Homo sapiens: one gene and its partner. The protein of the gene in region 1 purifies or fractionates together with the protein of each later gene. This does not show direct contact. Each region holds a gene or a part of one and is shown on either strand. Other genes may lie near its edges.

Region 1 (3,500 bases):
TTGCTAAAATGATTAGTTAATGACATATCTTAATAAAAATGTATACATTAACAAAAAAATTCCTTGGTCATATCTTGTTTTCTAGGGAATGGTTGTATCTCTTGTCACATGAAATGTTGAATCCATACTATGGCCTCTTCCAGTATTCAAGAGATGATATTTATACATTGCAGATCAATCCTGATTCTGCAGTTAATCCGGTATGATTTGAAGTTATGATGTGAATTGTGACCAATAATGCTTTTCATGTTTACATGTTAATGTAGTTTATTATATAGAAATTATTTGTCCTTGTCTTAGTTGTGCCCTTTGACTCAGCAATTCCCCTTCTATAAAATTTTCCCAAGCAGATGATTATGGATATATGCACCAATTTGGAAACAGGGATGTTTATTGTTTATAGTAGCACTCAACTGAAAACAACATAGTTGTCTTCAGGAGCGGGGACTGATTAAATTATGACATGAAGCAGAATAATGCAAATGATTAAAGGCATAGGTTCTGGAATTAGAAAGACGTGTCGTGGTCTCATCACTTACTAGCTTTGTGACCTTTCAGGGCAAGTTCATGGACTTAAGCTTCAGTTTTGTCATTGCTAATAAATACATTTGTACCTCAAAGAGGGGTTATGAGAATGAAATGGGACCCTGCACATTAAGCACTTAGCACAGTGCTGTATGTTATTCACTCTACAACTCTATCAACTACATTACTAAGCACTCAACAGAAGTTAGCAGTTATTACTAATGTATTGTTTTTATATTGTCTTTCCATATAAGGGCATACTATACAGCCACTAAAATGATAATGTGGGATAATAGTTAATGATATGGAAAGATGGTGTTTATGATGTGTTAAGTGAAACGAAGGTTATCAAATAGTATAATGCAACTTTGGTAAATATATATGTTTGTGTGCGTGCGCGTGTGTTACTTTTAAAAAAGAAACAAAAACAAGATAAAAGGTTTAAAGACGAGCTTAAAAGATTACTTAGTAAATAGAGAGGTAAAAGAATTTAAAAATACAAACATCTAACAAAACAATCTGTGACGAAAGACCAAATATATATAAAAGGGTAGAAATGTTAGATTTGTTTCAAGAAGTTATTTAGGGAGGATTTTGAGGTGAAGGTTCTTTTTGGAGGGCCCACTACTGCCCCTGTAGTAACAATAGCCCAGACTCATTGACTGCTTATAACATGCCAGGTCCAGTTCCATGGGTTTCAAACATCACCTCATTTTACTCCTCATAGAGATGCTTTTTAGATACTGTTATTATCCTCATATTTCCAGATGTGGACAGTTAGTCTTACGGGGGTTAATTTGTCCATATGCCATTGACTGGCAGAATCGTGATTCTAATTCAAGTCTGACACCAAGTCTGTGCTCTTAAATCTATGGTGTTTTGATGTTTAATTTCTGGTTAGGTCAAGGAAGTAGGGAGGTTTAGGATTGAAAGATTTTTTTTCATGACAAAGGGCTCAGCAGGAGGTGAGAGAAGGAAGAGAAAAGGATCTGCAAGTAGTTGAATGAAGCTCCGGGACCATAGTTTGGACTTAATTTCTAAAAGATAAAATTTACAAAATGACTGGCCCCTGCGAGAAGGGCATATTACCCTGTGTAATATGCTGTTCTCTGGTGATCTAGAGACTCTGGAGCATGCCCTAGAGAAATACTCCCTCCTGACTCTATTGAAGAGTAAAAATTTTATGCTTATTCTCAAAAAGATTAATGTTGCTGAAATATTTCATTTTTATTAAAATTTTCCTGGGTAGTGCCTAACGAGTATATATACTGTTTTCAATTTCAGGAACATTTATCCTATTTCCACTTTGTTGGACGAATAATGGGAATGGCTGTGTTTCATGGACATTATATTGATGGTGGTTTCACATTGCCTTTTTATAAGCAATTGCTTGGGAAGTCAATTACCTTGGATGACATGGAGTTAGTAGATCCGGATCTTCACAACAGTTTAGTGTGGATACTGTATGTATTGAGTCTTCTATCTCTTCATTATAAACTCTGAGCTTTAAAAAAAAATATGTTTCAAAACTGATGTACTTAAAAAAATTACACAGAAAATATTGAGTGGTTATTTGAGTGATAGGATCGCATATGATTTCCCCCTTTCCTGTAGCTTCTTTATACATTTCAAATTCCTTAAACTTAGCAAGTGTTACTACTTTAAAAAGGAAAAAACAACTAGTATATTTCTATTTTTAAAAGTACTTTATATAATTGTTTCCTCAATGTGATACAAATTCTGTTCCAAACCTGCGTGTGTTAGAATAGCAAATTCTTGGCTGCTGTTGCTTTTAATGAAGTGGCGATTGTTGGAACCGTACTTTTAGAATAAGAACTAATTGTTGAATTTAAGCTAAGAACTGATTCTGTTTTGCAAGAGGTCATTATTTTGTGAAGATACACTGGCAATGTTTATTTTTTATAAAGTATACAGTAGCTTTCTCACTAGGGATACACAGGCACTTGGCCCCTTGGAGTACAGTACCGAGTAGGGCTCTTCAGAATGCCAAATGTAACTGAAATTGTCCTATATTGGTGGTTCTAGCAAGGCCCAGCTTTGACCAAGGCTCTTTCTCATTACTCAGGAAGTTAAATGTTTTCTGTGTTTATGAAGGTTAAAGCTCTTTGACTTTTCTGTCCAGAAAGAACTAGGTGGTATGGAAGCAGAATCTGACCTCACATTTGTTATATTATAAAATGATCTTAGTTTTATCTCACCAATTAATACATCTATAGGGTCTGTATTTTAGGTTTCCCAGTTACATATCTTTTCCTCTTTCCTATCCAGTGAGAATGATATTACAGGTGTTTTGGACCATACCTTCTGTGTTGAACATAATGCATATGGTGAAATTATTCAGCATGAACTTAAACCAAATGGCAAAAGTATCCCTGTTAATGAAGAAAATAAAAAAGAATATGTCAGGTAAACACTCCTGTGTTCTCAAGGCTGAATTTTTTAAAATGTTCTAGAATGTTAGTATGAACAAACTTAAATATTTAGATAGTACTACTTAGTGTTACAAAATCCGCTTCAGGAGAATTTAGTGGCTTATTTAGAACAGACATTTTATTATTTCTCACAATTCCATGGGTCAGGAAATTGGGCAAAAGAACAACATGGATGACAACACTGGTGTTCCACAAGATGTCAGCTAGGCCTGCAACACCAAGATGGCCTCTTCACTCATAACTAGGATAACTCAAATGGCTGAGGGCTAGCTGGCATGGCTGTTGACTGGGGTCACTGTCTGGGGCCTTGTTCTCATTGTTGGCTGAGTTCCTTGGTTCTCCCTATGTGATATCAAAGGCCATTCCCTCTCTCCATGACCACTCCCTCTCCCCATAGCCACTCCCTCCCCCCATAGCCACTCTCTCTCCCAACAAGATAGCCAGACTTCTTATGGGGTGGCCAGCTTTCTAAAGCTCAAAAGCAGAAGCTGCTAGATCTTTTTAAGGCCTAAGCCTGGTCCT
Region 2 (3,500 bases), on another chromosome or scaffold:
TTTTAATTCAAACTTAAGGGCATTGTAAGAAAATTAAATAAATTCTTCAAATTGTAAGTCAAAGAAATTTACTTTGGCTTTGTCTTACCTGTTTTATGTTGCTGTAACAGAATACTACAGACTGCATAATTTATAAAGTAATTTATTTCTTACAGTTCTAGAGGCTGGTAAGTTCAGGGTCAAGGAGGCCTCATCAGGTGAGGGCCTTTTTGCAAAGTCATTCCATGACCGAAGGTGGAAGGGCAAGAGAGCACACTCAGAGAGTAAGAGACAAGAAGGGGGCTGAACTTACTCTTTTATCAGGAACTCATTCCCAAAATAGCTAACTCACTTCAGAGATAACAGCGTTAATCTGTTCATGAGGACAAAACCCTCATGATATAGTCACCTCTTAAAGATTCCACCTCTCAACACTGTTGCCTTGGGGATTAAGTTTCCCACACAAGAACTTTGGGGGAAACATTCAAACCATAGCAGACCATGTGTTGTAAGTCATTTTGGGAAAGAACATGATATTTATTTAGTATTTATTCCTACTTTGGCATCTTTCATTCAGATGTTTCCACTAAACAGATATTCATTTATCTGGAAAATGAGAACTAAAGTCTGTTTGGGCATCAGTTTCATCCACATGATTTCTCAGTGACAAAAAATTAGCACAGTTGCTAAATACTTCTCTCTACTATTTCCTTTTGGTTGCAAGTCTTCAGGTTATTTTAGATGAGACTACTTCGTATTGTTCTAAGTTCTCAGTGATTCTTTTTTTTAATTCTGTATATTGTCACAAGGTATAGTTGCCTTATATATACGTACTCTCAGGTAAAGTGGGAAAATGGCTTAATTGATAGCTTAGATGTTCTTATCTATTGACCATTAATAGGAACCTCAGAACATTCCTACTTAGGAAATTTTTGAGGACTGATTTAGAAGTAATGTGTAACAAATGAAATGTTGTTAGTAATTGGTTATGCTACCATAATGATGTGGTGTGCACACTGGTCTCCAAAATAAGGAAGAGGTGGAAAGCACCCTCTATCTCATTTATTTCAGGGCCACATTTTAGTTACTCTGTTTCATAATTGCATAGATTTGGAGAGTAAGTTAAATACTTAAACTGCCTGTAAAGGAAAATCTTTGATAAGCAAAATGGATTACAAGTAATTGTAGTATAGGCGAATCTATAGCCCGAGGGCCATATTTAGGCTATCGCCAGTTTTTGGCAGACTTTTAAGCTGAGAGTCGTTTTTACACCAAGAGAAAAGAAAATTTCATGACACATTAAAATTACATGAAATTCAAATTTCAGAAGTTTTATTGGAGTATAGCCACTCCCGTTTGTTACATGTTGTCTGTTACTGCTTTTGTGCTACAACACAGGGTTGAGTAAGTGTGCCCACAAAGCCTAAAATAGTTACTCTGTAGCATAAATGTTAAGAGCCTAACATATTTATAAGTAATTAGTTAATTATAAATCAGTATCTAGTTACGTAAATTGCTAACGTACCATTTCCCATTTTGTCAATGCTGGGTCACTTTGGTCTTCAGTGATTAGCTTTCCTTATAAAAAGGCTATAGTAATAAATGATGACATTAATAGAAATAGATAATGTTAGTTGAAGTGATTTCTTAATTTACATAATTTAGCAGGTTCTTTTGAACAGGGCTCTCCAACCCCTAGGCCACACAGCCTGGCTTGTTAGGAACCAGGCTGCACAGCAGAAGGTGAGGAGTTGGATAAGGGAAACCGGGCTCCACCTTCTGTCAGATTAGGTGCGGCATTAGATTCTCCTAGGAGTGGGAACCCTATTGTGAACCACGCATGCAGGGGATCTAGGTTGTGCACGTCTTATGAGAATCTAATGATAAATGTAATGCACTTGAATCATCCTGAAACCATCCCCCCACCCATCTGTGGAAAAACTGTCTTCCACAAAACTGGTCCCTGGTGCCAAAAAGGCTGGGGACTGTTGCTTTAGAACATTTTCTTTGATTTTGTTTACCTATCCTAATATGCTTTAAACACATTCTTGACTGTTATAGTAAATATAGCAGGAAGCTTTATCAAATATTTTTAAATGTGTAAGTTTTACACAGATTCTTCACTGTTTTAATTTTACAGAAATCCCGGATAAAACAGAACGTCTTCATGCCTTGAAAGAAATTGTTAAGAAATTTCATCCTGTAAACTATGATGTATTCAGATACGTGATAACACATCTAAACAGGTATTTTTATTTTTTTAGGGTTTTTTGGCAAATAAAATGCACTACACATTTCAAACATGTAAATTTTATAAATTGGATAATTATCAGATAGAAAAGGGGACTCAGACTAAACATATAGTTGAATTTTGTTTTTCTAATTTATATCTAAAAAGATATATGATTAGTTTTGTAATGTAATTATTATATAAATAGTAAGTGTGGTAAGTATATTTTCCTTTTTACCACATTCTCTGTAAAATCTTAGAATTTTAGATATGAAATGACACTCAGATAACTAACCAGATTGACCTATTTGGAGTTGGAACAGGGTTTGGTTTGAAAAATTACTAGTTCTGTGACCTTGGGTAAATGACTTATTCTTCCTAAGTCTTGATTGTCTCAACTATAAACATGAAAATAACAACACTTCACAAAGTTGTTCTGAGGACTGAATGGAACTATTTTAGTATATGTACTAATTTTTTGAAAAGTCTCCTCATAATATTTTCTACTGGCATTTTAATGAACTGTATGGTTTTTTTTGTTTTTTTTTTTTTTTAAACTAATAGTATCAACACCCAAACCAAGTACATTTCAGCTGGTACCTCCTAAAAGAGGATTCACCAATGTTTAAAGCTTACTTTTTACTAGCAATGTGGTATAAAATTGTATTAACATTTCTTATAACCTTTCCCTGAGAAAATACCATGGAAACATGGTGAAACCCCATCTCCACTAAAAATACAAAAATTAACTGGGCGTGGTGTGAGCATCTGTAATCCTAGCTACTCAGGAGGCTTGGGGCGGGAGAATTGCTTGAGCCCGGGAGGCGGAGGTTGCAATGAGCTGAGATCATGCCATTGCACTTCAGTCTGGCCAACAGAGCAAGACTCTGTCTCAAAAAAAAAAAAAAAAAAAAAAAAAAAAAAAAAAAAAAAAGATTGTTTTATGGAATGCTAGCAGCCAGGTTTTTTTTTTTTTTTTGAGATGGAGTCTTGCTCTGTCGCCAGGCTGGAGTTCAGTGGCATGATCTCAGCTCACTGCAACCTCCGCCTCCTGGGTTCAAGCAGTTCTCTTGCCTCAGCCTCCCGAGTAGCTGGGATTACAGATGTACACCACCACACCCAGCTAAATTTAGTATTTTTAGTAGAGACAGGGTTTCATCATGTTGGCCAAGATAGTCTTGATCTCTTGACCTTGTGATCCGCCTACCTCGGCCTCCCAAAGAGCTGGGGTTACAGGCGTGATCTACCGCACCTGCTGCAACCAGGTTTTCTGAAAGTTAAAAATTCTCAG

The links. Proteins that work in one complex are often made in the same cells at the same time.
Region 2: the proteins of SMURF2 (region 1) and ARHGAP5 purify together in Homo sapiens (affinity purification with mass spectrometry; 2 studies listed by BioGRID and IntAct, with this or other methods). This does not show direct contact.

The regions. Positions count from the first base shown.
Region 1 is NC_000017.11:64,554,308-64,557,807, reverse strand, and holds part of SMURF2 (E3 ubiquitin-protein ligase SMURF2), read left to right. Parts: intron 1-85; coding exon 86-200; intron 201-1,809; coding exon 1,810-1,988; intron 1,989-2,814; coding exon 2,815-2,952; intron 2,953-3,500. UniProt on the Homo sapiens protein: E3 ubiquitin-protein ligase which accepts ubiquitin from an E2 ubiquitin-conjugating enzyme in the form of a thioester and then directly transfers the ubiquitin to targeted substrates.
Region 2 is NC_000014.9:32,150,304-32,153,803, forward strand, and holds part of ARHGAP5 (rho GTPase-activating protein 5), read left to right. Parts: intron 1-2,119; coding exon 2,120-2,225; intron 2,226-3,500. UniProt on the Homo sapiens protein: GTPase-activating protein for Rho family members.